6 separate regions of the Homo sapiens genome follow, and all the other regions are linked to region 1. The links come from fine-mapping of genetic effects on gene expression. A gene starts in region 1. Each other region holds a variant in brackets. All regions are shown on one strand. Distances are between the middles of the regions.

Region 1 (5,091 bases):
CCTCCATTTCACGAGTGAATAAAGCCAGCCTCAAAAAAGTTAACTGATCTGCCCCAGGTGGAGGACCTGAAAGTAGAACCCAGGTTCTTGGACTATAATACTACCACTTCCTCACCTTGCGAATCCTACCTTCAGAAAGATGACCCTGTGGAGGCTGCCCGGTCACTTGCTCAGGTGCTTGGTCAGCAGAAATGGGCTTTAGCATACTTGAGAATAGTTGACATCAGGCATCACATCTAAAATTGCCATCTAAATTTGGAAAGCAGCTTTTATGCCCTCTGCTGCCTGGATAATGTAGCCTGCAGGGCACAAAGACCATGTTTTATTTATCATGAGCCCAAGTACTGTGTTTTATTTAGCGTTATACCTGTCCCTCTCAGCTTTATATAGCGCTTTTAAATATTTGCTCCTTCAACATTTGTGCAGATTCATTCACTCATCTAATTTCATAACCCTGATAAAGTTTTGAATATAATCTAGGGCAGCAGTAAAACAAAAAACTTCAAATTTAAGGAGTGAAAGAGTATGGGGGCAAAGGGTATCAGAGAATAGCCTTTTGAATTAAGGTATTTACTTTAAAAAATGTATGAACCTCAAGATGCTTCTGTGCTCTGAAATTTCTACCAGATGGTAATAACATGGCCGGGTGCAGTGGCTCATGCCTGTAATCCCAGCACTCTGCAAGGCCAAGGCAGGAGAATCGCTCGAGCTCAGGAGTTTGAGACCAGCCTAGGCAACATAGTGAGACACTGTCTCTATTTAAAAATAATAAATTAAAAATAATTTTTAAAAATACCAACAAGACAAAGTGTGTCTAAATGTACTTTCCAGGAATGTTTCAACTGACCCTTAAAATAATCCTTAAGAAAAGTAAGGCAACTGTATTATAACCCCTAATGCATCACTGAGGAAAGAGTACCTTAGAAAAGTTAAGTGACTTGTTCAAGATAATCAGATATACTGGATTTCAAGGGGATCCTAACTTTAAATCTCTTGTTTGTTCTATTACGCCTTTGCCTCACCTAGATAAGCTTTCTTTACCAAAATAGTAAAGGCGCAATAAAAGATGAGAAGCTGAAGTGCTATCAACAAATAAGAAAAAAGTGATGACTAGAGAGGGGTAGTTGTACTTGGTTGGAGAGTACAAGTATGGCTCAAAAGTATTCCTATAGAAATCCCTTTAAATGTTGCCTTTTGCTAGGGTGTGGGTAAGGACACTCACAGATTGTTGGTAGGAGTGCAAAACAGCATATCCTTTCCAGAGGGAAATTGAGCAATTCACATTAAAAAAAAAAAAACCCTTATGTGCATACTCTGCCCAATAATTCTATCATCTAGGAATGTACACTTAGAAAGTAATCATGGGCCGGGCGCGGTGGCTCACACCTGTAATCCCAGCACTTTGCGAGGCCGAGGCGGGCAGATCGCTGGAGGTCAGGAGTTTGAGACCAGCCTGGCAAATATGGTGAAACCCCATCTCTACTAAAAATACAAAAATTAGCCGGGCATGGTGGCACACGCCTGTAGTCCCAGCTACTCGGGAGGCTGACACAGGGGAATCACTTGAACCCAGGAGGTGGAGGTTGCAGTGAGCCGAGATCGTGCCACTACACTCCAGCCTGGGCGACAGAGTGAGATTCGAAAGTAATCATAGATATGCGGACTTTTACATTTACCCAACAATGTATTTTAATAGGGAAGAACTGAGAATGACCAATGAAATAAATTATAATATTACAGCCATATAATGGCATGCTATCTAGTCAGAAAAAGATAATTACAAAAGAGAATTCACTTTAGAAAAACTCATGTATTAAGCTCTGCATAGAAAAAGACTGGAGGTGTATAACCACATTCACAATGGTTACTTGGAATGGGGAAACCATATTCACCATGGTTACTTGGAACTTGGAATAGTGAAACAACGTATCTTCATTGTGATTTCTATCTTAGAAATGTGTATAAATGGCTAAATGTTCCTATATATAAAAATGTTTCTAATAAGACGTTTTAAAGGTTTCTTGGGGGTGACTGAAACAGCTGTGATTTCAAAATAAAATTTTAGTAGCCATTTAAAAAAAACATTAAAAATAAAACATTGCTATACCATTACCATTAAAATACCAATGAAAAATAAAGTCCTCGTTATGAATCTGCAGCAAAACCTTTCTTTTCAAATTCTGCTCTGTCGTTTGGACCTGTTCACATTCAGAAAAATGCTAAAAAGGCTGCCTGGCGAGGAGCCTAAAGAGGCCTTCCTGATTTCTACCTGCAGTTTGTAATTTGTTCCAGGAAAAAAAAAAAAAAAAAAAAAGGCAATCACCTAATAGGTAGTTCGAAAAGCACCTGAGTAGGAAAATATTTACGGGGTAGGTTTCTCTCCCATTTCTTTCCCTCGAGACCTACCAACAGGACAGTCCTGACAGCGACTGGCCCAGTTTCCCAATACAACCCAGAGAAGCACAGGAGATGCGCCAATTTTCAGGAGACGCTTCTAAAAAGACAAGTTTTACTTTACAATGCAGGATAATGAGCAGCCTTCACTACTCATTCTCGACGTTAACAGAGGAAGATGCCGCTGCGCGGCAGGAGCGCCTCACCAGGACAAAGCGGGGTACGGGGGGGTCCTCGGTTCAGGCCCCGCAGGCGACGCGTCCAGGGCCGCCTCGAGGACAAGGGCACCGTCCCCGGACACCGCCTTCCCGGCCCCCGCCCTCTTAACAGATGCAGGGAACCGCGGGGACCGCAACCTGCCCGACGACGGCGGAGGATCAGGGTCGCGGCAGCAGGTGCCCGGGTCGCCGTGCCTGTCGAGGGACCTCAGGGGCGCCGGGCAGCTGTCCCCTGGAAACCCGCGCCGGGTCGCCGCGCCCAAGGGAAGGCGCTGACCGAGGGACCTACGGGGCGCAGAGGAGCTGTCCCAACAGAACCCGAGTCGGACCGCCGCATCCTCCCCGCTGCCCCATCCGCCACCCCGAGAACCGCCCCTCCTGGGTGGCGGACACGCCCTCCCTGCGGGCCCAGGCCTCCTCGCCCCGCCTCCCCCCGAGCCGCTCACCCGGCCGGGAAGCCCCCGCCGCCGCCGCCGCCGCCGCCGCCGCCGCCGCCGCCGCCGCCGCCGCCGGCCCCTCGGGCCTCGCCCCTCACTCTGCCGCCGCCTCCCACAGCAGCGACACCCCAGCCACCTCTGCCGGGCCGCGGGACCCGGAACCACTTCCTTCCGGAACCGCCTCGCCCCGCCCCCACCCCGGCCCCGCCCACTGCTCGCGGCCTCGCACTGGGCCCGTTCTCCAGCCGACCCCTATCCTCTACTCTCCCGGCGAGGGTGCCCCGCCCGGGCTTCTCGGACCAGAGCGCTGCGCCCCCTGCCGGCCGTTCCCACTGCGGCCGCTCTGTCCAGGGCGCCTGCGCCCTCTGCCACCCGCCCGCCGGGTCCGGCTAGAGCGCCTGCGCCCTCTGCCGCCCTCTCGCCGGAAAGGAGGGGACCTAATGGGCGTTCCAGGTCCAGGGATCCTGGGGGTTAAGGCCCAGGGATTGGAGGTCACCCCTCAGTCATGGGCAGAACTTGATCCCGTGGGCCTTCCAGCTTTGTGCAGATCTCTAACCATTCACCTACCCTCTATCCATTTCCCACTCCTCAAATTAAGCATATTCCCGGAAAACAAAGCCTCCCCTCTGGACTTCCCAAATGGTCGGATGGTACCAACATCTATCCGTCATCCAATTCAAAAGATTGCCTCATCTCTGTCTACTCGCTTGGTTTCTCCCCTCCCACACTCCATGCACCAGCCTCAAAGGTAGTGTGTCTTCTTCACTCTTGAAGCTTTCCGCTTGACACTGATATTCTTTCTTCCCCTTGTGAAATAGCTCTTTCAGGCTCTGTGCCATCTGGTAGTAACACCTTTTGCCCTCCCTTGTCACTGTCACCTACTGACTGTCTGGCATTAGTTTTCCTCTCCATCTGATTTACTGCCATCCTCCCAATGAATCCAACATCCACAACCCAGCCTGGTTTCCTTCAGTTCCTCAATCCGAATGACCTTTACTTCTACTTTGTTCACCCGTAGTCTAGAAAATCTAGATATTCATCACTTGATACTGCTCCATCTCTAAAACCTTAAATGTTGAAATCCCACTACCCAACTTAAACCCATAGCCTTTGACTACAACCACTTTTTTATTTTTACTTATTTATTTATTTTGAGACAGAATCTCTGTCACCCATGCTGGAGTGCAGTGGTGTGATCTCGGTTCACTGCAACCTCTGCCTCCCGGGTTCAAGTGATTCTCCTGCCTCAGCCTCCTGAGTAGCTGGGATTACAGGCTGCGCCACCATGCCCGGCTAATTTTTTTTTTTTTTTTAGTAGAGACAGGGTTTCCCCATGTCGGCCAGGCTGGTCTCGAACTCCTGACCTCAGGTGATCCTCCCGCCTCAGCCTCCCAGAGTGCTGAGATTACAGGCGTGAGCCACAGCGCACGGCCTATTTATTTATTTAGAGATAGAGTCTGGCTCTTGTCACCCAGGCTGGAGTGCAGTGGTGCGATCTCGGCTCACTGCAACCTCTGCCTCCCAGGTTCAAGTGATCCTCCTGCCTCAGCCTCCTGAGTAGCTGGGATTACAGGTGTGCGCCACCATGCCCGGCTAATTTTTGTATTTTTAGTAGAGACGGGGTTTCACCATGTTGGCCAGGCTGGTCTCAAACTCCTGATCTCAAGTGATCCGCCTGTCTCAGCCTCTCAAAGTGCTGGGATGACAGGCATGAGCCACCGCGTCCCGGCCTTTTTTTGTTGTTTTTTTTTTTAAGAGTCAGGGGTCTCACTTGGTCGTGGTCCTGGCTGGAGTACAGTGGCATAATCATAGCTCACTGTAACCTCAAACTCCTGGGCTCAAGTGACACTCCTGCCTCAGCCTCTAGAGTAGCTGTTGCAACAGACGTGCACCACCATGCCCAGCTAATTAAAAAAAAAATTTTTTTTTGTAGAGACAGGGTTTCGCCATGTTGCCCAGGCTGTTCTGGAACTTCTAGGCTCAAGTGATCCTGCTGCCTCGGCCTCCCTAAGTGTTGGGATTACAGGCAGGAGCCACTGTGC
Region 2 (5,091 bases), 280 kb after region 1:
TTATATTTGTGCTTTTGAATGCAAATTTGAGTCTGCAACTGGAAAAGATACTTTTTTTAAAAAATTCTTTTTTAGTGACTTGTATTTAAGACCAGCCCGTAGCCAGACCTCAACTGGAAGTGTCTTTGCAGAACACTATGGAATTAAATGGAACTCTATTCTTTGACCACCAGCTGAATCCCAAATCTCCATGTTTGGAAACTCTGCAGCTTTAATCACAAAAATTGTGTGAGTGAGGCACTATCAAATCAGGTCCATTGCTGGAAAAACTGCTCATGGATTAATAATGCCATATTTGTAAGTAAAGTACATTTTCATTAAGCAACAGATCAATTATATTTCAGTAGCTTATTTTCAAGTCATGTTCTTGGTAACTAATAAAATAAGAATAAAAACCTGGGAAGGGGTTAAACATTAAGGAATTCCTTTTTTAAATAAGAAAACTGAATTGAAATAACTTACAATTGCCTAGAAAATAAGAGATGAATTCTATAGATTAAATGGCTTTATTAAAAATTTTAAGACTAATAAGACTGTATGCAAATAGTGAGTTCACGTTTAAGCAAGAATAAGCCAATTCGAAGTAGTATTGGCAGTTTTGGACACTTTACCAAAAGTTTTGAACACTTTTTATAATGATGGTGATGATGATAATAATAGCTAGACACTTACTGAGTACTTACTGTGGGTCAGGCATTGATGTAAGTGTTTCACATGTAATTTAATCATCATTGCAATGCTAAGAGTACTAAATATATATTAATAGCAGCTAACAGGGCTGGGTGCAGTGGCTCACTCCTGTAATTCTAGCAGTTAGGGAGGCCGAGGCGGGAGGATCACCTGCGGTCAGGAGTTCGAGACCAGCCTGGCCAACATGGAGAAACCCTGTCTCTACTAAAAATACAAAAATTAGCCGGGTGTGGTGGCATGCGCCTGTAGTCCCAGCTACTCGGGAGGCTGAGGCAGGAGAATCAGTTGAACCCAGGAGGTGAATGTTGCAGTGAGCTGAGATTGTGCCACTGCACTCCAGCGTGGGCAACAGAATGAGACTCTGTCTCAAAAACAAAAAACAAAACAAAACAAAACAAAAAACAAACAAAAAAAAGTAGCTAACAGCTGTTGAGTACTTGCAAACTGTTAAATGATTTACATATGTTATCTCATTTTATTTAAACAATAGGTACTGTTAGCAAAGGTTAGTGTTTCATTCTGATAAAGAATGAGTATTTCTTACTATAATGAGTTCTCCCAAAGATTTCAGGAAAATGCTTAGGAAAATGTACCACAAAATACAATTAAATAAGTATTTAAACGACTATGTTTATTAAATATATTCATATGCTGTATTGCTCTGTTAGTCTTTATTTTATTTTGCCTTGGTGGACACTGTAAGATTCTATGAAATTTCATTTTGAAAAAAAAAGAAAATAAGTTTCAGCTTCTCCAAAGAGCAATATAAAGCTTTTGAAAGGGTGTTAAAATAGATAATTTTCAAATGAAAATTTTTGTTTTCATAGTTTACCATGGGTCTTTAGACCACTGTTATGGGTTGAATTATGATTCTCCCAAAAAAGATACGTTGAAGGTCTAATCCTCAGTACTTCAGAATGTGACCTTATTTGGAAATAGGAGTGTTGCAGATGTAATTAGTTAAAATGAGGTCATACTTGAGTAGGGTGGGCCCCTAATCCATTAGGACTGGTCTCCTTATAAGAAGATAGCCATGTGAAGACAGAGACACAGGGAGAATGCCAGGTAATGACAGAAGATTGGAATGATGCATCTACAAGCCAATGAATGCCACAGATTGCTGACAAACCACCAGAAGCTAGGAAGTGGCAAGGAGCTAGGAAGAGGCAAGGAAGGATTCCACACAGAGTCTCTGAGAGAACATGGCCCTGACAACATCTTGATTTTAGACTTCTAGCCTCTAGAACTCTGAGACAATAAATTTCTGTTGTTTTCAGCCACCCAGTTTATGGTACTTTGTTATGGCAGCCCTTGGAAACTAATACAACGACTGGGAAGATTTTTGCTTATACACTTGCAAAGCATTTTTCACTTCTGAAAACACTACATCCACTATTAAGGATTTCCTAAAATAGTAGGCATATCTCTGTAAGCAATAGGGAAAAAAATAACAACAGAGAGGAATTTGGAATGTGTTTACAAATGGATTAGGAATAGAGCCTAGAATTTAATTTCTTCAGGTTAAACATTTAATGCTAACAAAATAATCCCTGATTCTTCTTTATAGATCTCCAGAATCCAGACAACTCTATATATGAGTAATTTCCCCCTAATATGTACTCACTATTATTTATTAGACTGAAGTGAAAAAAATTATACTGTAGCTTCTTAAATCTTTCCTTCTGTCTGGGAAGTCCATGTTTGGGCAGACTTCGTTTTTCATTTAGGAGCTAACTCCTCTATACTTC[T/C]CTTCCTGTATTTCTCAAGGAGTTTTGTGGCATCACCATTTATTTAATTGACCATATCAGAAATATAGGGTTCATTATGTCATCCTACCCTCCTCCATCTCCCCTTCTTCTCGCACCTCCCACATTATTTTACTAGATTTTTGGATTCTCCTTTCTAATCTGGATTCTGTCAAACTCTCTCTCGCTCCACTACCCCCACCCCAGTTTGGGCCCTCCCCATCTTTGGCCTGAATTATGACAGCTCCCTTCAGAGCCTTCCTGACTTTCACCCATTCTCTACACAAGGGATAAAGGGTGCATCCTAAAATGAAAATGTTATCTTGTTCATCCTATGTGCTTAAAACCCACAGTGGCTTTCCATAGCTCAGGATAAAATCCTGGCACCTTTGCCTAGATGCAAGATGCCTACCTTTCTTTCTTTTTTGCCAGCCATTAATGGCAATATAAAAAAAATTAAGAATTTATCATGCTTTTTCTTATACAAACTGTATTTCAGGTGAACCGTATAGCATTAGTTGATGAAAGAATGGTCTTTACAGAAGAATTCTGGCTTATAAATGTAGAAGGAATGCTGGACTTAGAAAAGCACCACTTTGAGACCATCGACACTATGAAGAAACTGCATCAAGTAATGGGCAAAATAACCAGCTAGCATCATAATGTCAGGATCAAATTCACACATAACAATATTAACCTTAAATGTAAATGGGCCGAATGCCCCAATTAAAAGGCACAGACTGGCAAATTAGATAGAGTCAAGACCCACTGGTGTGCTGCATTCAGGAGACCCATCTCACGTGCAAAGACACACATAGGCTCAAAATAAAGGGATGGAGGAAGATTTACCAAGCAAATGGAAAGCAAAAAAAAAAAAAAAAAAAAAAGCAGGGGTTGCAATCCTAGTCTGTGATAAAATAGACTTCAAACCAACAAAGATCAAAAAAGACAAAGAAGGGCATTACATAATGGTAAAGGGATCAATTCAACAAGAAGAGCTAACTATCTTAAATATATATGCACTCAATATAGGAGAACCCAGATTCATAAAGCAAGTTCTTAGAGACGTACAAAGAGACTTAGACTCCCACACAATAATAGTGCAAGATTTTATCACCCCACTCTCAATATTAGACAGATCAATGAGACAGAAAATTAACAAGGATATTCAGGACTTGAACTCAGCTCTGAACCAAGCAGACCTAACAGACGTCTGCAGAACTCTCCACCCCAAATCAACAGAATAGACATTCTTCTGAGCACCACATAGAACTTATTCTAAAATCGACCACATAATTGGAAGTAAAACAGTCCTCAGCAAATGCAAAATAACGGAAGTCATGACAAACAGCCTCTCAGACCACAGTGCAATCAAATTAGAACTCAGGATTAAGAAACTCACTCAAAACTGCACAACTACATGGAAACTGAACAACCTGCTCCTGAATGACTACTGGGTACATAACAAAATTAAGGCAGAAATAAATAAGTTCTTTGAAACCAATGAGAACAAAGACACAACGTACCAGAATCTCTGGGACACAGCTAAAGGAGTATTTAGAGGGAAATTTGTAACACTAAATGCCCACAGGAGAAAGCAGGAAAGATCTAAAATTGACACCCTTACATCACAATTAAAAGAACTAGAGAAGCAAGAGCAAACACATTCAAAAGCTAGCAGAAGATAAGAAATAACTAAGATCAGAGCAGAACTGAAGGAGATACAGACATGAAAAACCCTTCAAAAAATCCATGAATCCAAGAGCTGGTTTTTTGAAAAGATTAACAAAACTGATAGACCACTAGCCAGATTAATAAAGAAGAAACAAGAGAAGATTCAAATAGACACAATAAAAAATGATAAATGGGAGATTATCACTGATCCCACAGAAATACAAACTACCATCAGAGAATAGTATAAACACCTCTATGCAAATAAACTAGAAAATCTAGAAGAAATGGATAAATTCCTGGACACATACACCCTCCCAAGACTAAACCAGGAATAAGTCAAATCCCTGAATAGACCAATAACAAGTTCTGAAATTGAGGCAGTAATTAATAGCCTACCAACCAAAGAAAGTCCAGGACCAGACGGATTCACAGCCGAATGCTACCAGAGGTACAAAGAGGAGCTGGTACCATTCCTTCTGAAACTATTCCAAACAACACAAAAAGAGGGACTCCTCCCTTTTATGAAGCCAGCATCATCCTGATACCAAAACTTGGCAGAGACACAACAAAAAAAGAAAATTTCAGGGCAATAACCCTGATGAACATTGATGTGAAAATCCTCAATAATATACTTGCAAACCAAATGCAGCAGCACATTAAAAAGCTTATCCACCATGATCAAGTCAGCTTTATCCCCGGGATGCAAGGCTGGTTCAACATACGCAAGTCAATAAACATAATCCATCACATAAACAGAACCAATGACAGAAAACACATGATTATCTCAATAGATGCAGAAAAGGCCTTCGACAAAATTCAACACCGCTTCATGCTAAAAACACTCAATAAATTAGGTATTGATTGAACATATCTCAAAATACTGAGAGCTATTTATGACAAACCCACAGCAAATATCATACTGAATGGGCAAAAGCTGTAAGCATTCCCTTTGAAAACTGGCACAAGACAAGGATGCCCTCTC
Region 3 (5,091 bases), 31 kb before region 1:
GGTTGCTTTGTTTCACATCCCAGAGATTGAGCATTCAAATGAACATGTCTTCCAAGTGTTGTAATGGAAAACTATACCTTATTCCAAGAATGCTGCACTTGCTTAAAACTACTCAGAAATGCTTTGTCTGCAGGCACCTCATGCATCAATGAAAAAATTTTCTCATTATTTTATATTTATATCTCATTTTGGACCCAAAATGGCACTAATCAGCTTGTACCTATCTCATTCCTCTGTACTTAACTCTAAATTGCTTTTGGCTCTTCTCAAAAATCAAGTTCACTGTCTAAAGAATTGACATTTGCAACTGCTGGGGTTCTTAATGGCTACATTACAGGCTCAGAAGATAAATCTGAAAGAGAGCCCTGAAGTATGTTTTAAATAACAGGACACCACTGGAATAAATAGCTCATCATAAAGCAGAAAGCAAACAGACAGATGTGTCTGGGGGTATGAGTGCACGCATGCACATATGTACTTATTTATTTAAGTCATGTAACAGCCATATATCCAAACTGCTGCAGGGTTATGAGGGGCTTACAGATATTCTTTAAAAATTTTAGCTCCTCTAATAAAATGGTTTTGAGTGTCTATTTATAACTTATCAGAGGAAAGGCTTCCATCTAACTTTCCGTGCTCCCTGCTCTCAGACCAGCGTTGCCAGGGTCAACTCCCTGCCAAGGCAGAAACACAGAAAAGTAATCATGCAGCAGGTTGACCGCACTGCTGTGGTTTCGTTGATTCATTAGAAGGACTTTCATTAGAAAGAAGGCCCATTTCCCTTCTTTCCTCCTAATTTGCTCCAAGCTTCCCACTGTGTATGTGATAACTAGCTAAGAGACATTTGCTGGCAAATGTTAGAACACCCCGTAACGACCTCCACTAACAAAGAATTACAAATGCTCTCTGTTTAAGGGGGTCTAAAGTTACAAAATTCCTGTGCCATAGCAAAAGAAAAAATAGCCTTTAAAAACATTTTATAGTAGGAAAATAGTATATTTAAATAGAACTATACAAATGGTCCATCCACAAGAGGAAATCAGTTGATAAGGTTTTTTTCTGGCAGCCTCAGTTTATCCCAAGAGGAAATAAGCTGATAAAGATGTTCAGTTTTCCAATGAGTAATTATTAACATTTACTTATAATTTCTTACAAATTACTGCTGAAACTCTTGTCCCCACTCCATGCTCAATCCTCAATCCATAGGAGTTACATACTTTGAAGCTATTATATATTTAATTCCTAAAATCTTAGTGTTTAAACTTGTTATCCATTAAAATTTATCCTAGAGTTCCTCTACTACAAGATCTTTAATAAAAAATTTAAATTATCATTTTCTAGAAAATATACATTTAACATAGTATAACCTCCAAATTTTAGTCTTTTAAAAACAATTATGATACTTTTGGTACAAGAAAAACCCTCTTTAGACTTGAGAATGCAAAATGTTCTAAATATTTATATTTGTAAATGTAATCATCTTTTGGTTCACATTTTACTTTTTACTATTTCCTGTGGCATGGATTGATTAACAAGTTAATAATTTCAGGAAATACCCCCAAAGCAAGTAGTTAAGCTAAAAAGATCAAATGTTCTCATTTGAGATGCATTTTAGACAATTTAAAAAATTAAAATACAGCCAAAAACCTCTATTCTAATACTATTTCTGGTATCAGTTTCATTAAATCTTCCAAGATCCTTTGTTCCCTCGACTGCACTTTCCCCGTTTATTTTTCTGTTTAAGGATATTTCCACTGATGTTCTCCCTGAGCGTTGTGGGTAATAACCAAGAAAATGTAAAAAGCTACATTAAACCTTAATTTCCTGTTGCACACACTTAGGACTCATCAAAGAAATGAACTGCATGGCAAAACGGCAACAAAAAACCCAACAACAACCAAAACCAACAGATTCCCCTGCCCTCTGGAAGCTTCTATCAAAATCCGTACGACACATATAAAGTTTTCCTTTCTGTCTTCTTCCAACTAATAACTAACATTTCATACAGCATCCTACAGTTCATATAAAGCACTTTCCCAATTACAGTCACATGCAGCATAACGGCGTTTCCATTAATGACCACTTAAACGATGGTGGTACTGTATTTCTAGTGTACCTTTTCTATGTTTAGATATGTTTAGATACACGAATAGTTACTGATGTGTTACAATTGCCTACAGTATTCAGTACAGTAACATGCTGTGCAGGTTTGTAGCCTAGAAGCAATAGGCTCTACCATATAGCCTAGGTGTGTAGTAGGTTACATCATCTAGGTTTGTGTAAATACACTCTATGATCTTCAGACAGTGGCAAAACTGCCTAACAAGACATTTCTCAGAACGTATCCCCATCATTGCACAATGCATGACTGTATATAATTTGCTCCTGTCTTCCCAAGAACCAATTTAGAAACTGTGGAGTTGATGGAAAAAGTTCAGGGAGATTGCTCCTCCCCTAATTCCTCACTTTTTGCACAAAAGTCCTCTAGTGGGCCTCACCAGCCCCAACATGCATTCAGTCTACTTCATAGACAGCAATCCTCTGGCGGCCAGAACTGGGCTGCCAGCCCTCTCCTATCAG[C/T]TGATAATGTCAAATCAGGCTGGCAGTCGCAGCATTCTTACCTTTCAGTCTCCTTTCCCTCTATTCCTTTTCACTGACTGCTCAAAACCACACAGGTCAAAGTTCATGTGTATGTTTTTCTGCCATTGTTAACCTGTAAATATAAAATTTCTTTTGCCTCCATGTGTCTGCATACACCAGCCTTTGAAGCCTAGCTCACATGTCAACTACATGATGCCTCTCTTCAATCTCCCAGCTTGGTACCACCCATCTTCTGCTGAGTCACACATGCACTCCAATAAACCAAAGGAGGAGGAACCTAATCGTATGCAGCTCTACAGTCCCAGGGCACCCTAACAGACTGTCTCACACAGGGTAGGCCCTCAAAAAATACCCACTGAATGAATAAATAATGAATCAAAAATGACTTGGTCAATTTGAAATGAGTGTTTCAGCTAGAGAGATGATAAGGTCAAGTGCGGTGGCTCACGCCTGTAATCCCAGCTACTCAAGAGGCTGAACACTTTCGGAGGCAGAGGCAGGAGGATTGCTTGAGCTCAGGAGTTCAAGACCAGCCTGGGTAACACAGCAAGACCTCATCTCGACTAAAAATAAAAAAAAAAAAATAGCCAGGCATGGTGGCGTGTGCCTATAGTCCCAGCTACTCGAGAGGCTAAGGTGGGAGGATCGCTAGAGCCCAGGACGTCAAGGCTGCAGTGAGCCGTGATCACACCACTGCATCCAGCTTGGGTGACAGAGCAAGACTCTGCCGAGAGAGAGAAAAGACTTCAACATTTTATTTTTATTTTCTTTTTGAGACAGGGTCTGGCTCTGTCACCCAGGCTGGAGGGCAGTGGCGTGATCTCGGCTCACTGCAACCTCTGCCTCCTGAAGCCAACCTCCCACTTCGGCCTCCTGATTAGTTGGGACTATAAGTGTGCACCACTACACCTGGCTAATTTTTGTATTTTTTGTAAAGATGGAGTTTCACTATGTTTCCCAGGCTAGTCTCAAACTCCTGAGCTCAAGGGATCTGCCTGCCTCAGCCTCCCAAAGTGCTGGGATTACAGGCGTGGGCCACCATGCCCAGCCAGACTTCAACATTTTAATTGAGGCCAATTTAATTTTTTTTAACTTTCTTGGCTTTTATTTTTATTTTTTGCTTAACTTAGACCAATTTGAATTTAATATTTTAGTATAAAATTTCTAATATATACTAAAGTTCAGAGATGAACATTATGAGCCTCCATGTGTCTGTCAACTCAGCTTCAATGGTCACCAACACATGGCCAATCCAAGCAGACTCAAAGAGCCAGGAGGAACTGCAGGTTAATTTGGTCCCAAAAGGTTACAGCCAAGTGACCTGCCCAATGTCACAAAGCTGATCAGTGGTCCATAGGAAGACAAAAACATATGCACTCTAACTGCCAACAGAATCCCTACACAAGGCCCCCTAAGAGACACCAAGAGAAGCTAGGGTCAAAAATAGGAATGAAAGGGAACCTTCTCTCAATTAATTTTTGATTTTAAAATGCATATGAGAAATTAAAGTAGGGGAGAACTTTAGTTTTCTATGCTATATAACAGCAAGGTGGCAGGTTTGGGTATAAAAAATATCCCCACCTGCATCTTATTTTGCCTCCAGCGGAACAGTGTCCATCATAGGTACACTTATGTGACTAGGTTCCCTTCCTTCAATCTCAGTTATGGCTTTTCACATTGTTCCCTGCCTGCGTGATACCCATTTCCTCAGAGTGTCAGGGTCCCAATGTCCTCTGGGGCCCATCCCCCACCTCATCCCCTTTCAAACTAGGAAAAGAGCTGATAGGGGTAGAGACACCCCTCTATGTCTCTTCAGTGGGAAATAAAGGATTAGACACAAATGTGGCCAATGTACTCAGTCCACCATCAACTCTGATAGCCATGAATGCTGATGGACAACCTTCCCCATGTCCCAGGTGTCTCGTATCAGCTTCCCAGGAGATCAAAGGAGTCTCTGATCCATCAGCAGCAGCTTATTCTGCTCCAGATATTAGTACCACCTCCTCCCTCCTCCTCTTCCTTCCTGGCCTAGCCAAGGGTCAAGCCCTCACTCACTCAAGCCCAACATTAAACTAACACCTGCATTTGTCTGCCCCAAAACATCCAGATGCATATATACAACAGTTCATGTTTTGCATATGTAACAACCTTAGTAGAAATTTTCATACTGTGATTCCCTAACTTACATTCTGAAACATATAATTATGACTCAGATGTAATTTCTGATAATGAAGTTTCTGACAGAGTGGATCATTAGAATACAGTCTTTCTTAACAGAAGCATTAACTATGCAGTGAACATTCAAGCAAGTGTTTACCTACTGCTGTTCTAGATACAAACTAGAATCTAAAAAAATCACAGTGATAACCTTATGTTTTCAACCATACTGACAATTGGAAGAACAAATATCAATTCTCAACCAAAGCTAAGTAAATAAATGCACAAAATTAGCCATCTTAGCATTTCCAAAAAAAAGCAGATAAACTCTCT
Region 4 (5,091 bases), 210 kb after region 1:
GAAGAAGAAAGGAAGCAAGAGGGAGAGAGAGAACATACTGTGGTATAGCTGAAAGAGCAAATGTTTTCTGGAGTTTAGACAGAAAGATATGAATTCAGATCTGTGTAATCTTTTTTTTGAAAAAAACTTAAGCATCACAAGATCTGTACAATCACGAGCAAGATACTTATTTAAATTCTTTGAGACTCAGTTACCTTTCGGCTACACAATGGGGATAACACTACTGTAGCTTTGAGGAGCATATGACCATTTGAGATAAGGTATGTACCTAGAGCCTGGTATGTATGAGATATTCAATTAAATAGTAGCTATTGTTATTATATGCAAAGTAGCACCATGAATATGATTAAGGGATAAAACAATTTACTACCAGCAATGAGTACTGCAGGATTCAGAGAAGGGCAAGATCAGTCTTACTTGCATAGGAAGGCTAGAAGAAAGATGTAGGGTCAGGGAGCAAGCTTTAAGACTTTTGGAGTGGCATTTAGATGGGTAGGAAGGATAGGCCCTAGAAAACAAGAGTCCAAGCATGGAGTACCCAGTGTAAGCAAAGATGTGAAGGCATGAATGACAAACAGGAAGGAACCAAATGAGATTTACTACTGCGCCAAGGCGAAATGGGGAGGATCCAGATTCTTGAGAAGTTGGAATGCCAAGATGAATTTATATTTGACCCTGTGAGCAAAGCTCTTTTTCAGCAACCAAATATTTCCTGAGCAAAGTGTATGTGCAATGCACTAGGGATATACATACAAATAAGATAATCTTCAAGAAGCTCATGATCTAGTGGGAAGGACAGACAGGTAAATAAATGATTATAATACATTCTAAGTACTCTGAATGGTTATATGAAACATGAAAATGGAAAGAATAGGACAATCTTTGGAGGAGGGAGAAAGTTGAGTTGGTTTTATTTTCAGTTTAGGGTGACTGCAGATATTTAAAATATAGAAATAAGACCTCTGGGGAAAATAAACAAAGCAGCTAAAAAATGCCCTATTTTTTCCATTCTACCAGTTTTCTATCCCCAACTGGGAGATTTTCATACCACTGACTGAAAATGGGCAAATCAGAAATAGGAATCAATTGCTCTTGATGTCTACGCAGCTCTTTTAACTGACCTGTCCAGTTAGTATATCAAATTCAATAGCAATCTCTGATTTCATTACCTTGCCCGATCGCTACAACTCTGGTATTTTCCTTGTTATATCTGATATGCCCCCTTTTTTTTGAGATAGGATATCGCTGTCGCCCTGGCTGGAGTGCAGTGGTGTGACCTCGGCTCGCTGCAACCTCCCTCTCCAGGGTTCAAGTTATTCTTCTGCCTCAGCTTCCCGAGCAGCTGGGATTACAGGCTTGTGCTACCATACCTGGCTAATTTTTGTATTTGTGGTAGAGACGGGGTTTCACCATGTTGGCCAGGCTGGTCTCTAACTCCTGACCTCAGGTGATCCGCCTGCCTTGGCCTCCCCAAGTGCTGGGATTACAGGCACGGGCCACCACGCCCAGCCTGATATGCCCTTTGTACTTTTTATGTGAGTGAAGTTCATCACCAATACCTGCTGATATTTCTATTCTAGTCTAGCCTAAATCTGTCCTTTTCTCATTATTACCATACAATTTTGGATTAGTTCCTATCACCTTAAAGGTGGATTCCAAAGTCCTACCTCTTTCAATAAGTATACAAGGCTTATCACTTAAAAATACCTCGTCTGCTCAGTAAGCATCAAAAATATCCACTAATAAATGCACTGTATATCCCTCTTGTCTTATTTTACCACAATGAAAAGAACAATTATTTGGGAGTCAAGAACTACAGTTTAGTGGCTATACTAATAACTAGATGAACTCATAACTACCTTGGTCAAATCATTTCATTGCTCAGGGATTTCCTGTTTCCTCCTCTATAAAATGAAGGATTAGAACCAAGATGATTTTTTTGTGAGACAGTTTTCTCTTCAACATTTCCTTATATGTAACATTGATGAGACCTTGTTTAACTGAAAATGAGCAGTGAGAGTCCTTCTCTAAAGAATTCCTTCATTTTGTCTGAGGTAGGCCTGTGTCATAATTCTAATCTCGTTTCTTTTGCTTATGTAAAGACCTAGTGACAATTCTAAATCATCCTACCATGAGGAATTTTAATTAGTATATACTAATTCAGAAGAAGGCATGTTTTATATAGGCCAACTTCTAATCCCAACATAGAATTGGTTAATACTGACTCATGCTGGCAAAGCAACTAGATTCCTCTGAAATATTTTTTCTTCTAGAGTAGTTATTAGATTTAAGCCCTACTTGACTGAACCTGAGAATGAAGAAATGTTGTTTATGTTCCTAGGACTATGCATTAAGAAACCTTTTTAAGCAGTTTACAGAACCTTTTAGACAAACAGACCACTTTAATAGGACAGAAGTCCCCATTAACTTTATCTAATGTTATTGACTTGTATTTGACCCCATTTATCGTATTAACAGGAACTTTAAAATGGGAAGAGACTTCTGGTTAAACATGGATATTTTACTCTCTACATTCTTCCAAAACCCCATGGAAATGACAATAATG[G/A]AAAAACTGCATAAACTCACAAGGACAGGAAGCAATAGTAGAAGATGTGCAAGTGGTAACTAACAAAGCAGACCAGAGAAAGCTAAAAATCTAAGCCTAAGGAAAAGAAGCCAATGAAAAATAAGCAAATTCTTGTCATTGAAATCTTTCCAATCAGCTTTCTAGCACCCGACTCTTAAAGAAAAGATAGCAAAAGACCCCCAGGCATTTGGAGAAAGGCTCTAAACATGAAAAACATCAAAATAAACAGAAAAATGGAATAAAGGGAAACAGAGACAATGTGAGGAACAGAAGATAACTTAAACACCACACAACACAACTCAATCTTGTAATTTATGTCCACTGAGGGAGCAAAGATAATATGGCACCTCACCCTTTTTAAAGCTTCTTGTTCTTGTTTAAAAAGGGTGGTGGGGTGGAGGAAGGAACAAGTATCCGCAACAAATAAACTACAAGGAAAAGATAAGAAATGAAGAAAGAGTTCATAGATGAAAAGACTTAAAAACATTATCAACCAATTGCAAAGTTGAGACCTTATATGTATGGATCCTAATTTAAACAGACTGCATAAAGAAACATAAATTTTAATAGTAGGGACAACTAGCAATTTGAACAAAGACTGGATATCTTTATGCTCATTTTTAAGGTATGATAATACAGTTGAATTATCTCTTTTAGGAGTCTATCTTTTTTTTGAGATGGAGTCTTGCCCCGTCGCCCAGGCTGGAGTGCACTGATGTAATCTCGACTCACTGCAACCTCCGCCTCCTGGGTTCAAACGATTCTCCTGTCTCAGGCTCCTGAGTAGCTGAGATTACAGGTGCCCGCCACCACACCCAGCTAATTTTTGTATTTTTAGTAGAGACGGGGTTTCACCATGTTGGCCAGGCTGGTCTCAAACTCCTGACCTCATGATCCACCCGCCTCGGCCTCCCAAAGTGCTGGGATTACAGGCGTGAGCCACCGTACCCAGCCAGGAGTCTATCTTTTAGAGATATATACTAAAATATTTATGAAAGAAATTCTATAGTGTCTGGGATTTCATTCAAAATATCAAGAGAAGAAGAAGGAGAACACTGATGAAAAAAGGTTGGCCATGAGTTGATAAATGTTGAAGCAGGGAGAAGGGTACAGGGGGTTCACTATATTCTTCTGTCTCTTTCTTAAATGTTTGACACTTTCCATAATTGAAAAATGTTTTAATGAAATAATCAGAGAACAAGAAAATCTAGGAAATGAAAAGCGATGGCAGAAACAAAAAGGTCAATAGAAGAGTTGGAAGATGGTTGAAGAAATTTCACAGAAAATAGAAAAAATGGAAAATAAAAGATGGAAAAATAAAGAAAATTAAGGAACAATTCAGGAGGTTTAACTAACATATTCCAAAGAGCAGCACTTACAAATGTAGAATAAATGACAAAAACTTTCCCAAGACTGAAGAAAGGAGTTTTTAGGTTGAAAGAGACCACACCTCATATATCATATGATATAGTTTTAGAAACCCACACTCAAGAATACCACTATATAAATTTCAGAACACCAGGAATAAAGAGTAGATTCTAAAGACTCCCAAAGAGGAAAAGCAGCTTACACACAAAGGACTGGGAGTGAGACCAGCAATTAACTTCATCACTGTAACACAGGAAACTAGAAGACAATGGAAGCAATACCTTCAAATATCTGGTAGAAAATTCTTTCTGACCTAGAATTTTATACTCAGCCAAATTATAAACTAAGTGACAGGCGGTAGAATAAAGCCATTTCCAGACATGGAGGGTCACAAAAAATTTAGTATCCATTTACTCATTCTGAGGTAGCTATGAGAAGATGAGTTCCATCAAAACTAAAAAGTAAACTGAGAAAAAGGTAGGCACAGAATTTATGAAAAGAGACTGAATACAGAAAAGAAGTGAAGGAAATGTGACTGTAGTATACTATTTCGTTCAGCTAGGAACAATTCTTATAAAGCTGTAACAATGAAAACATTATTGGGAAGATGTGAAAAGGGAAACTGTGAGTGGGTGGCAGCATGAGAGAACTGAATCTTAGTCTTCCATGTTAGAAAGGCAATAGATTATGTCTCCAAATGAAAACAAACAATTGCAATATAAAAGTGTTGAATATAAATGTAAATGGCAGCAGCTAAAGAGATGAAAGTCATTGTCTCTGGGGTTCAAGAATTAGGATAGGCAGAAGAGTGGGCAAAGCATAGCTATGTTATATGATAAGACTCTACAGATATTCTTTTGATAAACATAAAAATTTAAGAACACATTCACAATTATTCAGCAGTTTAAAATTCCAATAAGTCAAATATTTTCACTTTTCTATCATCTCTTTTATAGCTAATATCTATACAATTTTACATACTTGTAGCTCAATTTGTTCTAATTTTCACTACATTCATTTTTGTAATTTTATTTAAGATACTTTATTTTAATAATATCCTATTAAGTGGTAAACCATAATTTTATAACGTTTCTCTATTTTTCCTTATTAAAAAAAATTTTTTTTAGGGACAGATC
Region 5 (5,091 bases), 84 kb before region 1:
ATGTGTGTGCATGCAAAGTGGGTATATATGTGCCAAAAGTACACAAGGATTTTTTTCTCCAGAGACAGGGTCTCACTGTGTCGCCCAAGCTGGAGTGGTATGATCACGGTTCACTGCAGCCTTGACCTCCTGGGTTCAAGTGATCCTCCCACCTCAGCCTTCTGAATAGCTGGGACCACAGGTGCGCACCACCATGCCCAGCTAATTTTTTTTTCTAATGTTTTGTAGAGACAGGGTCTCACTATGTTGCCCAGGCTGGTCTCAAACTCCTGGACTCAAATGATCCTCCCCCTCCTCAGCCTCCCAAAGTGCTGGGATTACAGGCGTGAGCCACTGTGCCTGAACACAAGGACTAAGACCAAACTGTTAACCATGCTTACCACTGAGTAGTAGGCATACAGGTCATTTTAATGTTCTTCTTTATACTTTCCCATATTTTCTAGGATTTCTTTCCCGTATCAAGCATGCATTACTCATAACCAGAAAATAATTACTTCCATTTCGTGTAAAGAAGTAACTTTTTAAAATGAGCATCTGAGACCTTAGGGGCTAACTGCAGCAAGCAGCTGTCACCAAAATTTACACATGTAGGAGTTAGAACGGCTAAGAAAAAATATGTCAACTATCTTTATTAACTAACGCTCTCCAGAATGTGGTTTAGGTATACATGTTCTAGAAGTATGTTGGAGCCATTGCTATAAATCTACATATCGTGTTCTCTTTAGATTCTTGTTTTGAACTAAGGTCTATGAGGCCAGAACATCTTGGCGGGCGCTGCATGTCATCTGGTTTCTAGGCAGTATTTTAGAAAGGCAGCTCAATTCCCCTTCTTGCCCAATAGGTGGGGCAAGAAAGCTTTAGAAGAGTCCCCACCTGCTAAAACATGAACAGGAAGAGACCAAATTGCAGAAAAACCAGTTAGAGCGGTTCAGAAGTCATCCCCATCCAGTTGGGTGGGATGTATGCTAAAATTTTCCTAGGGTGAAAACTGTTTCCAGAGAGTTTTCTAGAGAATACCAAGTTGAGAGTCTATAAAATCTGTTTCAATACCTGACAATCACACTGTAACCAGGACTTTTTTCTAGCGTTTGAAATTAAAATAGCTCAGGTTGAAATGCTGAGATATCATTTTTCATGGGTCAGATTGGCAAAATTCAAAAGCTTGTCAATACACTGCTGGCCAGACTGTGGGGTAAGTGGCACTCTCATCCACTGCTGGGGGAAATGCACCCTGGTCCAACTCCCATGGAGAAGGGCTGGCAATATCTAACAACATTCCATATACATTTTACCCTTCGGCCCAGCAATCTCACTTTTTTTTTTTTTTTTTTGGAATTTACTCTGAAGATTCACTTCCAACAATATGAAAATAAATATGCACAAGGTTATTGATTACAGCATGATTTGTAATTGCAAAATGTCAAACTACCTAAATGTCCAAATATAAGAGTGTGGTTGAATAAGTTATGATAACAGCTACACAGTGGAGTACTATGCAGCTATAAGGAAGAATGAGGCCAGGCATGGTGGCTCACGCCCATAATCCCAGCACTTTGGAAGGCCAAGGCAGGCAGATCACCTGAGGTCAAGAGTTTGAGACCAGCCTGGCTAACATGGTGAAACCCTCTCTCTACTAAAAATACAAAATTAGCTGGGTGTGGTGGCAGGCGCCTGTAATCCTAGCTACTTGGGAGGCCCAGGCAGGAGAATCGCTTGAACCCAGGAGGTGGAGGTTGCAGTGAGCCAAGATTGTGCCACTGCACTCCAGCCTGGGCGACAGAGCAAGACTCCGTGTCAAAAAAAAAAGACAATCGCACAAACTGGTATGGAACAATTTCCAAGATTTCTTAAGTGAAAAAAGCAAAGTGCAAAAGAGAATATAGAAGATGCTGCTTTCTGTATATGGAAAAAAACGGGGAGGGGGGGCGGAATAAGAAAACATACATATATCTGCTTGTCTATACCAAAAAATACACAGGAATGAGAAACCCGAAGTTGGTCACCTACAAGGAGTGGGAAGGAATAGTATTGAAGGAATACAGGAGGAAGTGACACTTCCCTGAGCATACCTTTTGGTATAGTTTGATTTGAGGAAGTATGTTAATGTTCTACATATTGAAAAAAATCAAATCAAATAAACATGGATGGTGGGGAGAGCTACCACTGAAAACAAGTTGGAAAAAACAACTGTATTTCTAATGAAGAACATGACC[A/G]TATCACAGGGGTAGGAGTGGAGGAGACTAATGCAAGTAATTTATGTACACAGTATTTGTCCATATACCTTCTGTCTTTGGGGCATGGCACTGAAGAACCGCAAACAAATCCTGAACTATTTTTAGTAGGTTTGTTTCCTGCTGTGGTATAAGTGAAGCAATTCCGAAACTACTTTAGATGTATTATGGGATTGAGCAAATGATTAAATCGTTTGATGTTGGGAGCCAGGGTTCTCACTGTGGAGGAAGGGACATACAAATATCAAACAGGAGAAGGCAAGGAAGAATCCTATGGAGATGGATGGTAGGTGCCAGTGTGACCTCATCATTTCTAAAATATGTATATATATGCATGTATGTGTGTGTGTGTGTTTCCTAGATATGGCTGCTGAAAATGCTTATAAGCAAAGACACTCCAGTAGCAATGGGCACTAGGGCCCAAGTCTTGGACTCTAATACCATCCCCCACTAAAAGGAACCAGGACTCCTTAGAAAAATGAATGATTTCAAGCCTGGGGCAGGGAATGTCCAAGATAAAGACCAAAACATTTTGTTATGCATCAGAGCAAAGAAGTGCTAAAAAGAAATGATAGGTGCATATCACAATTTGCAATTGCAAAAATATGGAACCAGCTCAAATGCCCATCAGTCAACGAGTGGATGAAGAAAATGTGGTACACACACACACACACACACACACACACACACACACACAATGGAATACTACTGAGTCATAAAAAGGAATGAAATAACGAAAAAGGAATGAAATAATGGCATTCGTAGCAACCTGGATGGAATTGGAGACTTTTTTTTTTTGAGACAGAGTCTCACTCTGTCACCCAGGCTGGAGTGCAGTGGTGTGATCTCACCTCACTGCAACCTCCACCTTCTGGGTTCCAGTGATCCTCCTGCCTCAGCTTCCCAAGTAGCTGGGATTACAGGCATGAGCCACCACGCCCAGCTAATTTTTTTTTTTTTTTTTTGTATTTTTAGTAGAGACGGTGTTTCTCCATGTTGTCCAGGATGGTCTCGAACTCCTGGCCTCAGGTGATCCACCCACCTCAGCCTCCCAAAGTGCTGGGATTACAGGCATGAGCCACTGCACCTGGCTGGAGACTATTACTCTAAGTGAAGTAACTCAGGAATGGAAAACCAATATTGTATGTTCTTACTCATGCGTGGGAGCTAAGCTATGAGGATGCAAAGGCATAAGAATGATACAATGGACTTTGGGGACTTGAGGCAAAGGGTGGGGGGTGGCAAGGGATACTGTAGATTGGTTACAGTGTACACTGCTTGGTGATGGGTGCGCCAAAATCTCAGAAATCACCACTAAAGAACTTATTCACGTAACCAAACACCACCTGTTTCCCAAAAACCTACTGAAATAAAAAAGATAAAGTCAAAAAAGGAATGATAGGTCCATATCAAGAGGACACAGCAATCAGCTTAAAGGGGCTCCCACTGGCCAAAGCTAGGATCATTTGAGCTCCCAAATAATCAAGGACAATAATGAATTATAAGCCACTGAAAAAGTAGAAATGAATCCATATCAATAATAAATAGACAAATAAGCAGGGAAGAAGGGAGGAGTCTTGCTTACAGCAGAATGCCAATGCCAGCTGGTAAGTGTAGAGGGAGCACTGGAGTTAGAAAATCATCATTTTGCCACCATAGCCATGAAGATTGGTTTGGACCAAAATCATCAACATGCCTGGGCATGATGGCTCGCACCTGTAATCTCAGCACTTTGGGAGGCCAAGGTAGGAGGATTGCTTGAGGTCAGGAGTTCAAGACCAGCCTGGACAACATAAGGAGACCCCCCCACCGCCCCCCACCATCTCTTAAAAAAAAAAAAAGCCAGGTGCAGTGGCATGCACCTGTGGTCCCAACTACTCGGGAGGCTGATGTGGGAAGATCGTTTGAGCCCAGGAGGTTGAGATTGCAGTCAGCCATGATTGTGCCACTGCACTCCAGCCTGGGCAACAGACGGAGACTCTGTCTCAAAAAAAAAAAAAAAAAAGAAAAGAAAAGAAAAGAAAAGAAAGAAAGAATGGAGGCCCTCTTTAAAAACCAGAATGGTCTTCATTTTGGGTTTGTCTGATGATTCTTTATGATTATATTCAAGTGCTGCATTCCCAGCCAACATACCATATTAGTGATGCTGTGTTATCTATTGTTAGCAGTGGAGAATCCATATCCGTGTCACACGGCACCAAAATATCTTCCGGCAATGAACCTGTACGGGTCTGCAGCAACCTCAATTACTGCCTCCTCAGAAGAAAAAATTGGACTGAGAGGCATAAGGCAGAAGGAGAGATGGAGGCAAGTTTTAGAGCAGGAATGAAAGTTTATTTAAAAAGTTTAGAGCAGGAATGAAATGAAGTATACTTGGAAGAAAGCCAAGCAGTCGACCTGAAAAGCAAGTGCACGGTTTGACCTTTTGACTTGGGGTTTTATAGGTTGGCATACTTCTGGGGTCTTGCGTTACTCCTCCCAACTCCTGAGATCTTATCGGGAAGCTGCTGATCACCATTATTTTAGAGAGACAGTTAACCACCGCCTGACTATCACCTGATGGTTGCCTGACACTCCTGGTATGTGGGTCGGGGGAGCCCTCTCCTGCCCTGCTCATACCAGACTAGCTACCCACTGTAACAGTATCACACTGATGTCCATCTGCTCCTCCTTGGTGATGTTAATTTCCATCCCCTAGTCAAGGAGTTGTCTGTTCTTTCCACTGTATAATTGCTGTTTTTCCTTCCTGCCTTGCAATAAATAAGCGATCTGTGAGAAGACACTTTTACACATTGAAATGTCCTGCTCATCAAAATTGCCTCATATATTTAGTATCTATTGATGACTCTATTTTTTTTTT
Region 6 (5,091 bases), 74 kb before region 1:
CATTAAATTGAAGGGGCTGCTGAACTTCAGATAAATGTTTCTTCATTGGTTCCTAAAAGGGATAAATAAGCCAGTTATTCTCAAACTCAAGTATGTGCCAGAATCCCCTGGAGGACTTGTTAAATCACAGATTGCTTGGCCCCACCCCCAGGGTTTCTGATTCAGGAGGTCTGGGGTGGGGCCAAGAATCTGCATTTTTAACAAGTTCTCAGGTGATGCTGATGTTGCTGGTCTGGGACCACACTTTGAGAACCACTGTATTAAGGTCAAGGAAAAAAAAGATTGTGGAAAAACTTAAGGTTGGTCACTAGCGTTTTTCCCCATATTATAATTTTAAGACATGACGTGACATGACACCTGGCCATGAATGATGAGACGGTTAGTTCTTAAGTCTTTATCCCACTTTACCTCCTCCATGTCTGAATTTGTCAATGTACATTAATTTTTCTTTGTCAAGATTTATAACATTTACATACTATTCTACATCTATGATTCCTCAGTTCTTAAATGTTCATTCTGTATTTTAATGGACTCAGAGCTCATAATCATCCTATTTGACGGAACTTTGTTGGGGAACCTGGTATCCCCTCTCTTCTAGGTTCCCATTAAATGTCCAGAACCAGAACTCACTAGACACAGTCAAAGGTGTCTCTGACTTCTGCAGGATTTGGCTTTCCCAGGCTGCTCTGAGACCTGGGAAATGCCTAGTCCTGGTGAATCTTACCCCTTCTGCTGAGGTCCTGAGATGGAAGCAAAGACTTCGTTGTCCCAAGAGTTTTCCTTGACTCTCCTCCACGTGGCCTGGTCACCTCGTCAGTGCCTTTGTCCATACTGGGGCCCACTGTTACCAATATTTTTGTCATCTCCATTGTTTTACTCAGTGCTACTTCTGGGGATGGGCGAGGGATGAAGTCATACCACACCTTGTTGCATCAGCTTCTTCTTCCTTCCTTGCTTGGTTGTTCCTGGTGAATTTGTGCCTGGTGGTTACTGAATTTGCTGGGTAATAAAGACAATAAGAGTTTCTCATCCAGCTTTACTTTTCTTGCTTCTGCCTGGAAGTATCCCCGTCTTTTTTTTAAAAAAAAAACTATTCAAAAATGTAGGATTTATTAGGTAAAATGTGGTACATAGTATACATCTACATAAATTGTTACACATAAATGTAGCGAGTTTTTTTCCAATAGAAAAAAATGAAAATGTATCATCTAAAATATTTATAATAGTGTTCTCTGTGATAAGACTATGGGCAATTCTTCAAATTGAAATTTATGTTGAAGTAACTCTAGATTCACATGCAGCTATAAAAGAAATAATACAGAGAGATCCCGCGTACAATTTACCCAGTTTCCCCCAATGCATCAATTTTTAAAACCAGTAAAACCACCAACAGAATAGTGCCTTCTGAGGTTGGTGAAACCAATAGGAAAGAAACATGACGAGGGGATGCTGAATCAGAAATGTCAACTTTCCTCTCAACCTTTTGTATATATGTCCACTAAAGTACTTACTCTACATTGTGATTCTTTGTTTTTGTGAATCTCTTCTTCAGCAGTGCATGAGCTTCCTCACAGCAGGGACTGTGTCTTATTATCTTTGTCTTCCCAGTACCAGCGAAGGGCCTAGCACGTAGTGGAGGAAGGTGAGGAGGCAATGGTAGGGGACTTATCAAAAAAAAGAAAAAAAAAAAAAACTTCTCTTCTCAAGTCTTATGCATTCAAGAAGTCAAATTCTTTCCAGTCAATAAAAAATGCTATGGATAACCTTTTGTTCAATCTCCATATGAAAATTACACATGTAGTTCCTAATAAACATATTCTATTATTCCCTATTTATTCATTCATTATTCAACTAATATTTAATGAACTCTTACCACACGTCAAATAGGAAGCTGGGTGCTGGGGATACTATGGTGGACAAGACAGACACGGTCCCTGTCCTTATTTTATACTCTAAATTATAAAGTTGGTTTTTCCTTTTAGGCTTTAGATCTTATACACACAATGTTTTCTGCACAGGTATTTTGCAGATAACACGCTTTGCATATTGAGACAGTGCCAAAAGAATATCCAAATAGGGAATCAGTTGTGGAATGAATAATAGTAAATCAGCCATCTTACCTTTATGTGTTACAATAAATAAAAAGCGAGCTATAAAGGCGATTTACCAAGTTATATTTCTGTTTAATGTCCATTTTTCCTATTAGACTCTTCGTACCATAAAGGCAGGGTCCATGTGTCTTGTCTTCTTGTTCATTGCTGTAATTTTAGTACAGTATCTGTGCAATACATAGTTGTCAATCAAATGATTAAATATTCAAAGCTCATTACTGTCCCCTAGAATATGGGAGTAAATGAAATCAATTATTTTAAAATTTAAGACAGATTTTATAAGTACCTAACACAATATAAAGTTGCCATACTACCTGTGTGCATGCATTTCTTTCTTACCATAAGTGGAATGCTAAATATGTTTGGAAAACCTGACCTATAGAGATTGTACACAGTACAAGACAGGCCATCTACCCAAATTTATTACCTGCTTAGCAATGAATCAAGTGCACTTGCCCCCCTTATCATGAACTCACTTAAGGAAAAGGCTGCCCTCTCTTTTAAAGATATGGACAAGAAAACTGAATGTACTAAGATTTTTCACATCCAGTCATGAAAAACCAAGTTCTTATCAACCTTCACATTTTAATTTTGAAAGCTCTGTCTTTGTAAGCACAGAACAGTGCTTTAAACACTGTTTAAACAGAGGTGCTATCCAAGGCTATAAGTCTCAAACAAAATTAAAATAATGCTCTCACAAACTGGCAAGTAACTTATTTAAGCAGAAAGAGCAACAACATTTTATT[T/C]TATTACAAATAAACATTTCACAAAAATGTAATTGGGAATGTATATGTACTGTTAAGCAGAACACAGAAAACATAAAGAAATAAGGTATTGGGGCCTAAAAATTTCATTTAAAAATCCCATCCATTTGCTCTTACACATAGTAGGTATGCAATACATATCAACTGAACTAAAAGTAAACACTCTATAAGATGTGCTTGCAAAATGTGTAATGCTGTAGTAGTAAAGTACAATTTTCAAATATGAGATTTTGTTTGTCAGATTTTTAAAAAGCCTTTAAAAATATGATATGCACAAGCTTGCCCTGAGGGAAAAATAAGATGGACTATAGATTACAAAATCTTTACATATTTTCCACAATAGCATTTTGAAATTGGAAAAGAGCAAATAGTTGTGGAAAAAAACTGAATGAACATATTACTAAAAATTCAGTGCACTCACAACTACCTGATGGAATATTTGAAGCACCTTGTCTCTTGCCTTCTTATAATATGAAATGTATGAATTATATAGGCCTTGATCTTCAGAAACTTAAGAAAACTTCGAGTTATAAGCCAAAATGTCATCAGAAAAAGAAAAATCTGGTATAAAATTTTCTACCATAAGGCCACTGTTTAAAGTTCTTTCATGTAAAGACACTATACAATTCAGACACTTGTTTTTGTTTTTATTATGTAAGCAAAACTTTCAACATATAAACGTCTGAATATTACTTGGTGAAGTTCTCTCTATGAAACCATGCTCAGAGAAAAATGCATCAACAAATAATGCCCTTCAAGTGATTCTTTTGAGACTTTTTGCAAAGGAAACTGTAGTTAATACAACTTTTAAATTGAATACTGTAATTTAAAAGCAATTGTTAGGTGTAAAAAAGTTGCAGCATTCCACTACTAAAAAATAAAGTTATTTTATCAAGAAGTTACAGTATTAGTGCCTTAGTGTCACTTCTAACTCCTGACAAAAAGAGAGAGATGCTCCCAAACATCCTCCTGTAGCGTCATTTCCATTTGTACGATTTCAGATTAGATTCCTGTGGCAACATCTGTATATTCCTATTGAGAGAAAACAAGAGAAATAAAGACTTCAAACAAAGTGTCAAACATCTGAGCTAGTTTTGTTTACACTGCAATTTTCAAAGTATTTTCGTTTATACAGTGTTACTTGCACCCCGAGATTCCCACGAAGGCATGTGGAACCCCAAAGGCGCAAAGTAACAACAGAACACATCAAAGCAATATCGCATGATAAATCAATAGGACAAAGAAAACATGTGGTGCTAGATAACATTGATATTAGTAAATTGATGAAAACAGTCTTCTGCTATTTGGGTGAGTTTCAGTGAAGGCATCCCTGGCATAAAATCAAGACTCTTAAACCTTTGGCTCTCAAGTACGGAGCCTGACACTACACACGCACACCTCAAATTAGTATTTTATCTTTTCCACCCTATATCTCTAATTCTAAAACTACATGGGCTCTTTTAACTGACTGATAACTGCAGAGAAAGTTATTAGAGGGGGAAATGCCTTCTTACTTTTGGATGGTTGACTACAGTATAAAAAGGTGTAAGGCTTCAATAAATACAGGAAGAAGAATTTACAAGAACAATGAGACTATGATTAGAGAATAATGAACGTGGATTCTATACTGTGATACTATGCACAATATTCAATTACTAACCACAAACTGGACATAAGACCATGCAAGTAATAACGGAGCAAACATGGTAAAATGGCACATTTTTTAGGGACATTAAAAAATAAAAATTTATTAATATACATATCCTTACCTTTCACTAGGATCTTACACTATTAAAACTGAAAGAAATGTAAAAGTTGATTTATTTTTTGGCATTTATATTAGTATGGAAATGTTTAATTCCAAACAAAAACAGTGCTGATAGAAAATTCTTATTCTTCTATTTTGGTTAATGAAATCTTCAAAATACATGCACGTATATATTTGTCAACATCATTCCTTTAAATAGAGGTAGACTTCATTGTATCCTAGTTCTTTACTCATTATACAATATAAAAATCATATAAATTTATCTTCAAATAAAATGTTACCTACTTACAACTTTAAAAGGAAATTCTAACTACAATAATTCTAAAATAAGATTCAGTTGAAGTATCTTGTTAAATGTGTGATTATTTTGAGTTACATTCACCCTTGACATAGCTTCTTTCATAACCTATCTCCACTTGATCCCTCCACCCTTCCAATGATTTAAAAG

Direction of the effects. Alleles are on the strand shown, and positions count from the first base shown. SD is a standard deviation of normalised expression in the study named. Not every link is listed here.
For the expression in sigmoid colon of the gene that starts at base 3,212 in region 1, G is the low allele of the variant in region 5 and A is the other (moderate effect, 0.57 SD a copy in GTEx).

Evidence for each region. PIP is the estimated chance that this variant, and not a neighbour inherited with it, causes the effect.
Region 2: its variant is fine-mapped to the expression of BCLAF3 in whole blood (TOPMed, PIP 0.94).
Region 3: its variant is fine-mapped to the expression of BCLAF3 in minor salivary gland (GTEx, PIP above 0.99).
Region 4: its variant is fine-mapped to the expression of BCLAF3 in tibial artery (GTEx, PIP 0.93).
Region 5: its variant is fine-mapped to the expression of BCLAF3 in sigmoid colon (GTEx, PIP 0.94).
Region 6: its variant is fine-mapped to the expression of BCLAF3 in whole blood (TOPMed, PIP above 0.99).

What each region holds. Positions count from the first base shown.
Region 1 is chrX:19,987,850-19,992,940 of GRCh38, forward strand. BCLAF3 (BCLAF1 and THRAP3 family member 3) reads right to left here and starts at 3,212. Exons shown (of 12, transcript NM_001367774.2): 1 at 3,059-3,212. It overlaps LOC729609 (a long non-coding RNA gene), which reads right to left and starts at 1,930. Exons shown (of 2, transcript NR_024440.1): 1 at 1,837-1,930. RefSeq lists silencers at 2,595-2,964, 3,035-3,084, 3,125-3,554.
Region 2 is chrX:20,272,571-20,277,661 of GRCh38, forward strand. No RefSeq gene overlaps it. Among named protein-coding and RNA genes, the nearest start is that of RPS6KA3, 8.2 kb to the left of the region's middle. The variant T/C (reference allele first, on the strand shown) is at 2,439.
Region 3 is chrX:19,956,445-19,961,535 of GRCh38, forward strand. The region is part of intron 4 of BCLAF3 (BCLAF1 and THRAP3 family member 3); the gene reads right to left. Among named protein-coding and RNA genes, the nearest start is that of BCLAF3, 32 kb to the right of the region's middle. The variant C/T (reference allele first, on the strand shown) is at 2,581.
Region 4 is chrX:20,195,629-20,200,719 of GRCh38, forward strand. The region is part of intron 4 of RPS6KA3 (ribosomal protein S6 kinase A3); the gene reads right to left. Among named protein-coding and RNA genes, the nearest start is that of EIF1AX, 56 kb to the left of the region's middle. The variant G/A (reference allele first, on the strand shown) is at 2,567.
Region 5 is chrX:19,904,131-19,909,221 of GRCh38, forward strand. No RefSeq gene overlaps it. Among named protein-coding and RNA genes, the nearest start is that of SH3KBP1, 19 kb to the left of the region's middle. The variant A/G (reference allele first, on the strand shown) is at 2,214.
Region 6 is chrX:19,913,428-19,918,518 of GRCh38, forward strand. BCLAF3 (BCLAF1 and THRAP3 family member 3) reads right to left here. Exons shown (of 12, transcript NM_001367774.2): 12 at 1-3,907. The coding sequence ends at 3,878. Among named protein-coding and RNA genes, the nearest start is that of SH3KBP1, 28 kb to the left of the region's middle. The variant T/C (reference allele first, on the strand shown) is at 2,858.